Homo sapiens: one gene and its partner. The protein of the gene in region 2 interacts with the protein of the main gene of each other region in a biochemical or structural test. Each region holds a gene or a part of one and is shown on either strand. Other genes may lie near its edges.

Region 1 (3,500 bases), on a different chromosome or scaffold from region 2:
AAATGTACGTGCAGCTATTCCTGCAACAGTGCTGAGGGTAAAGTGATAGTGGAAACACAATATTCCTTGTAGGAGTCCCCATGTAAGCGCCCTCCGAGAGACTGCTTTCTCACATGCAACGCGGGGAATGGGAAAAGACAACTTGAAGATGAAAAAACAAACAACTTTTAAAATTTAACCTATTGCTTTCTACTTGGGAAACAAAAATATTATAGAATCTTCGGACAAACATGTGGAACTAATAATAACAACAGTAGAACAATAGCAATAGAACCTATACAGCCAAGCCCTACCATTAAGGGCTGGCAAAGAAAACATACTCTATAAGTGATTTTGTACATATTAGTTTTACCCCTTTCCACTTTCCTGCTCTGGGCCTATCCACTCCCTCCAGCATCCAAATGGTTAGTAGGTAGTTAGAATTAAGGTTACCTGAGTAATGTTGTACAAGCTGCTGAAGTGTTTCAAACTGGGCCCGGGTGGTAATGTAGTATCCACCATTGTCAAGTTTGCGAATTTTATAATGTTTGACATGGTCTCCTTTCATATCATCCCAATCACGGATAGAAAGTGAATAGGCACCTGGTAAACGTGGAAAGCATTAGCAGCTCCAATCATTTAGAGTATCAGCTTGCTTTTTAGGCCTCATTTTCTTGACTCTGATTAATAATTACCAAGGATGCACACACACATGTACACACACACAGCATCTCCACTCAGTAACAGGAAGAAGATGCTTCTTGATGTTCTGCAAATGTCAGAATATATTAGCAATAAAATGATTCTGCCCTTGAGACTGAAAGCTTCCTGGACATTTTTCTTAAACACACTGTTCGGTACCCCTTGTTGCATAATACAGCGTAGACTCAATTCCAACACTCCTTTCCCCCAAGGGTAAAGAAGGACCACGATGAATGGCTGAGCTTGCTTCCCTTGTCTTCTCTACCCAGGGGCATACTGGGAGGTAGCAGCAGCATGTGCAAAAGAAATCTAAGGCTTGTTTCTCTAGAAGTGAGCTTCAAGCTTCTGCTTTACAACACTTTTTACAGGAATGGATAATCTGGCAAATTAAGCTAGAGGCCACTACTCTTTTCTTCCTTGACCTGTCTCCTCTTGTGGGTTGTAAGGAGTTGTTAAATAATGAAAAGTCCAACAGTTGGAGGAAGAGAAGTGAAGTCCTCAGTTATTTAAAAAACAAAAGGAAAGCAAAAACAACCTGTATGACTGGCACCTGAGGAACTAAGATTTCAGAAAATCAAAATTCTAAAGGACTTCTGAAAATTCTACGATCTTGTGTGCCTGGAGCAGTGTAGCTGCATCCAGCCCGTTTCAGGAGGAAGGTCTTGATTTGGGGCCTCTGTAGTTCTTTTGGTGCTGTCTGCAGTTTTAGAGCCTGGAGGGAAGACTGAAAACAGGACTCCACTCACAAGGCAGGGAGGGTATGTGCCATTTTAAAATCCTTGTACATTAGAGATAAGCCTTTCATCCCCTCTGACTAATCCACAGATTTGAATGACAAGCCAACTTCTTCAACTCGTTATCTTACCTTTGGTGGTTTCACTCTCGCGGATAAGAAAGGTACCTCTTGGGTTTCCAAAGGACAATAGCTGTCGCTCAGCATCTTTTCGGCCAAGTTTTCCAAAGTACCACCTTTAAATTAGATCAAGGAAAGAAAATATTTTGAAATAGTCATTTACAAAATGCAACAGCATAGGCTTTTTTTTTGCCCATGAATTCCCCTCTCCTCCAATTTAGTCCTTAACCTTTCCCTGGATGTATTTTTTTTCTAGCTTAATTCAGTTCCTTTTCAATCTATCCTGGATTCTATCCCTAATTCATCTCTTTCACTCTTTAAAAAAAATCAGATTTGAGTTGTGGGTTGTTTTCCTCCCCTCTAGACATGACCAGAACTGGTTTGTGTTAAAACTGCCACCTGTATGCAAAAAACCAGAAATCTAAGACCTTGATTTGAAATGGTTACTGCAGGAGACCCTTTCCACACTTATCTAAAAGACTCTAGTCTGGGCATGGTGGCTCATACCTGTAATCCCAGCACTTTGGGAGGCCGAGGTGGGCAGATCACCTGAGGTCAGGAGTTTGAGATCAGCCTGGCCAACATGGTGAAACCCCAGCTCTACTAAAAATACAAAAATTAGCTTGGTGTGGTGGTGGGCACCTGTAATCCCAGGTACTCGGGAGGCTGAGGCAGGAGAATCACTTGAACCTGGGAGGCCCAGGCTGCAGTGAGCTGAGATTGTGCCATAGTATTCCAGCCTGGGTGACAGAGCAAAGCCGTGTCTCAAAACAAAACAAAACAAAAAAAACAAACGCCAGGCATGGTGGCTCATGCCTGTAATCCTAGCACTTTGGGAGGCCAAGGTGGGTGGATCATGAAGTCAGGAGATGGAGACAATGCTGGCTATCATGGTGAAACCCCATCTCCACTAAAAATACAAAAAATTAGCTGGGTGTGGTGGCATGCACCTGTAATCCCAGCTACTCAGGAGGCTGAGGCAGGAGAATTGCTTGAATCTGGAAGGTGGAGGTTGCAGTGAGCCAGGATTGCGCCACTGCACTCCAGCCTGGGCAACAGAGCGAGACTCTGTCTCATAACAAAAAATAAACAAAAAAACAAAACTCTTGAATCTCTTGATATCTAAGCATTATTGTAACTGCTGGGAAATAACAAAACACAGTCTTAATGTATATGAAGATAATCAAGCATTAAAAAAAGTCAGATTAGATAGATATGATATGAATAAAGGAATAGTATTTTCAATAACTTCCTCCCTATAAGAATTCTGAGAAAAACGCCCATGAGTACTTACTTGTATTTTGTTTTCCTCCCCTAGGTGTGTGAGGACTTGGATAAGTAAAGGCATTTATTTACCAAGCACCTGGATTGTGATCTGTGTTCATCATCTTCTTCTTCTTTTTTTTTTTTTTTTCTTGAGACAGGGTCTCACTCTGTCACCCAGGCTGGAGTGCAGTGGCATAATCATAGCTCACTGCAGCCTTGACCTCTCCAGGCTCAAGCAATCTTCCTACCTCAGCCTCCTGGGACTAAAGGTGCACATCACCACACCTGCTAACTAAAAAAATTTTTTTTGTAGAGGCTAAGAGTGGTGGCTCATGATTGTAATTCCAGCACTTTGGGAGGCTGAGGCAGGCAGATCACCTGAGGTCTGGAGTTCGAGGCCACCCTGGCCAACATGGTGAAATCCCAACTCTACTGAAAATACAAAAATTAGCTGGGCATGGTGGCATGTGCCTGTAATCTCAGCTATTCGGGAGGCTGGGGCACGAGAATTGCTTGAACCAGGGATGTGGAGGTTGCAGTGAGCTGAGACAGGGCCACTGCACTCTAGCCTGGGGACAGAGTGAGACTGTCTCCCTATGTTGCCCAGCATGGTCTCAAACTCCTGGGCTCAAGTGATCCTCTCGCCCTGGCCTCCCAAGTGCTGGGATTACAGGAGGGAGCCATCACGGTGGACCCTGTA
Region 2 (3,500 bases):
CTACCGTTGTTTTGAACCTCACCCACACAACTCTCCAATATTACCTATTACTAATTTTTTCCCATTAAAAAAATTTAAAAGTTAGCTTTACCCACTCAGGAAGCCCATATATTCTGTAATGCAAGCACCTACATCTACCACAGATTCTCAGGTTTTAAGAGACCTTCGGACGGGCATGGTGGCTCACGCCTGTAATCCCAGCACTTTGGAAGGCCGAGGTGGGTGGATCATTTGAGGTCAGGAGTTCGAGACCAGCCTGGCCAATATGGTGAAACCCCCTCCTCTACTAAAAATACAAAAATCAGCCGGGCGTGGTGGCGGGCACCTGTAGTCCCAGCTACTCGGGAGGCTGAGGCAGGAGAATTGCTTGAACCCGGGAGGCAGAGGTTGCAGCAAGCAAAGATTGCACTACTACACTCTAGCCTGGGAGACAGAGCAAGACTCCGTCTCAAAAAAAAAAAAAAAGACCTTCAAGGGCATTAGTTCAACAAACGAAATTTGAGTTCTTTGAAGCATCCATTCTAATAGCAAACACAAGACATTACTAGGAGCTCTGCATTACTCTATAAAGTTCACATACATTAAATAACTTAAGTGTCACAACAATCTATAAGATGGTTAATATTATCCCCATTTTACAGACAAGGAGGCCAAGGCAGAGAGAGATTAAGCAATTTGCCCTAGGTTACATGTTTCCTCCGTGGCAGTCTAGCTCCCCATCCATACTCTTAATCATTATGTTATGCTGCCTTGCCTCACCATATTATGGAAGTCTCAGATTGGAAATTCCCTTTTTGGTTAGCATATTTACCAAAAAATATAGAATAAAGCATTTGTGGCAACATGTTAACAAATGATACCTAGGCAAATGAAGAGTATACCAGTTACTGTGCTAGAGCAACTTTCCTGCAAGTTTGAAATAAAAAGTTGAGAAGTGCTTTTGTCATCACATCACATCAACCAACCTGGGACATGTTTTGTGAAAGTCATGACCAAATTACCTACTGCTGACCAGCAAGGAAGGCTTTAAGATAAAATTCTGGCCGGGCGCAGTGGCTCAAGACTGTAATCTGGGAGGCCAAGGCAGGCGGATCATGAAGTCAGGAGTTTGAGACCAACCTGGCAAAAATGGTAAAACCCATCCCTACTAAATATACAAAAAATTAGCAGGGCGTGGTGGCGCGCACCTGTAGTCCCAGCTACTTGGGAGGCTGAGGCAGGAGAATCGCTTGAAACCGGGAGGCGGAGGTTGCAGTGAGCTGAGATCGTGCCACTGCACTCCAGCCTGGACAACAGAGCAAGACTCCATCTCAAAAAAAAAAAAAAAGATAAGAAAATTCTTTGCCTCTTTATAATTCCCCCACTATATGCCTGATCTAAATTGTCCACACCACACCAATCAAACTGAAGGGCTCACTGGAGAAGAAGTGGCCCTAAAAACAGGGAACACGATCCCTGAATAAAGTGGTAAATTCAGGCCCCATTCTCAATGCTTAATATTTAATAATAACATGCAATTCCAAGTAGAATTAGGGAAAAAAATTACTTCCGAAAAATACATTAAACAATTAAATACAAATCAATCCATACCCTAATTTCCCCCTCATTAGTTCTAACCAGAACAGTTGTTCTTGCCTTCTTACAATCTCCCTGCCAGGCTACATCAATGCTCTATTGGAAACCTTGGAGGCAGCTGCATAATTTAGGCAGAGCAATCCCTACTTCAGCTTTGTGTGTCATTTAACCCTTCTTTGAGGGAAGAGAACATGAAAGAATATTTGTACTTATTCACATCCTTATTACCTACAGTTCACTCCTGTAGGCAAGTTCCTTGTTAATACCTTTTAAATTACCCAAGAAAACTAATTTCGGTTCTTAAACTCATAAGCTTCCCAATACATGAACAAAATCTAAAGTTTTGTGGCTAAAACAGTGATTTAAAAAATACACTGATATCCAAACATACTTTCTTTGAAACACTGATGTTCAAAACTATCATCCCAAGCTCTTAACGTTTTTATTAACAAGCACAGAAACCATTCACCTCCAACCAGGGCTGAAAGCAGTACTTTTCTGCTGATGTCTTAATATACTCTCCCCTAGAAAATGGCAACATTTAAGGTTTTCAGTGTTGAAGTTCATTATGAAATGAACGGACTAGGATACTTATTATTTATTTATTTATTATTATTATTTTTTGAGATAGGATCTGGCTCTGCAAGCCCAGTCTGGAGGGCAGTGGCATGATCTCGGCTTGCTGCAACCAGTAGCTAGGACTACGGGTACATGCCACCACGCCCAGCTAATTTTTGTATTTTTTGTAAAGAGGAGTCTTCACCATGTTGCCCAGCGATCCACCCACCTGGACCTCCCAAACTGCCGGGATCACAGGCGTGAGCCACCGCACCAGGCCAGATCCTTACTTTTTATACTATTCTTTGTACCACTTGCCAAGAAAGGAACAGGATTAAAGAAAAGCTAAAATTTTAAATCCTCCATTATCTCTAGAAACTTTGCTTAAAAATATAAGGGAGGGCCAGGTGTGGTGGGGCACACCTATAATCCCAGCACTTTAGGAGGCCGAGGTAGGAGGATGGCTTGAGCCCAGGTGTTTGAGACCAGCCTGGACTACATAGAGAGACCCCATCTCCACAAAAATACACAAAAATTAGCCAAGCATAGTGGTGTGCACCCATAGTCCTAGCTACTCAGAAGACTGAGGTGGGAGCACCACTTGAGCCCAGGAGTTTGAGGCTGCAGTGAGCCATGATTTCACCACTGCACTCCAGCCTGGATGACAAGAGCAAGACCCTGTCTCAAAAAAAAAAAAAAAAAAAAAAATTAAGGGAGGAGACGCATAAAAGGTTAAAACTACAGACTACAGTAAAAGTTGCAAAAGTACATTGCAATTTGATTAATCTATGTTGTTTTGCTTCCTTTCAAGCCTTCCCCACAAATCAGTCCCTCACTGATTCTCATCAAATGCCTTATTTAACCAAGGCTTACTGAGCACCTCAGTATGTACCAAACACTAAGACAGGTGCTAAAAAGATACAGAGATAAGACAGTACCTACACCCAAGCTGCTCATAGTCTAGAGGGAAAGACAAGAATATCTGAACTACCTCCTACAAGCCTGTCCCTGCAAGTTGATGATATCCTATCATTCCAAACCACATACCTAACAAATTCTCTGGAAGAAGAAATTTTACTGATAAACAACGTGTGACACAATTCCAGGAAGTTTAAGAAATTAGGACAGCAATGGTGGGCATATGGATATGGAAAGATTCTCGTTCTAAAGATTAAAATAATATCCATTCTAGCACATCCAGCTCCCCATGGGCTCTATGGAAAATAGATCTTTTGCATACATTATCCCAACAAGGGTAGTGGGGAGTTGGAGGGAGTTGGAAATTTAAGTGAGTACTGCCCCTGTGCCAAGATGAAACACTCCTGCCTCTAGCAAGGGCTCGTTTTAGTTCGAGCTGTTGTTTCCAT

What was found. The genes of interacting proteins can lie anywhere in the genome.
Region 1: of the proteins of CTNND1 (region 2) and FYN, one has a biochemical effect on the other in vitro, tested with the Homo sapiens proteins (one study listed by BioGRID).

What each region holds. Positions count from the first base shown.
Region 1 is NC_000006.12:111,702,453-111,705,952, forward strand, and holds part of FYN (tyrosine-protein kinase Fyn), read right to left. Parts: intron 1,651-3,500; coding exon 1,547-1,650; intron 583-1,546; coding exon 433-582; intron 1-432. UniProt on the Homo sapiens protein: Non-receptor tyrosine-protein kinase that plays a role in many biological processes including regulation of cell growth and survival, cell adhesion, integrin-mediated signaling, cytoskeletal remodeling, cell motility, immune response and axon guidance.
Region 2 is NC_000011.10:57,764,802-57,768,301, reverse strand, and holds part of CTNND1 (catenin delta-1), read right to left. Parts: intron 1-3,500. UniProt on the Homo sapiens protein: Key regulator of cell-cell adhesion that associates with and regulates the cell adhesion properties of both C-, E- and N-cadherins, being critical for their surface stability.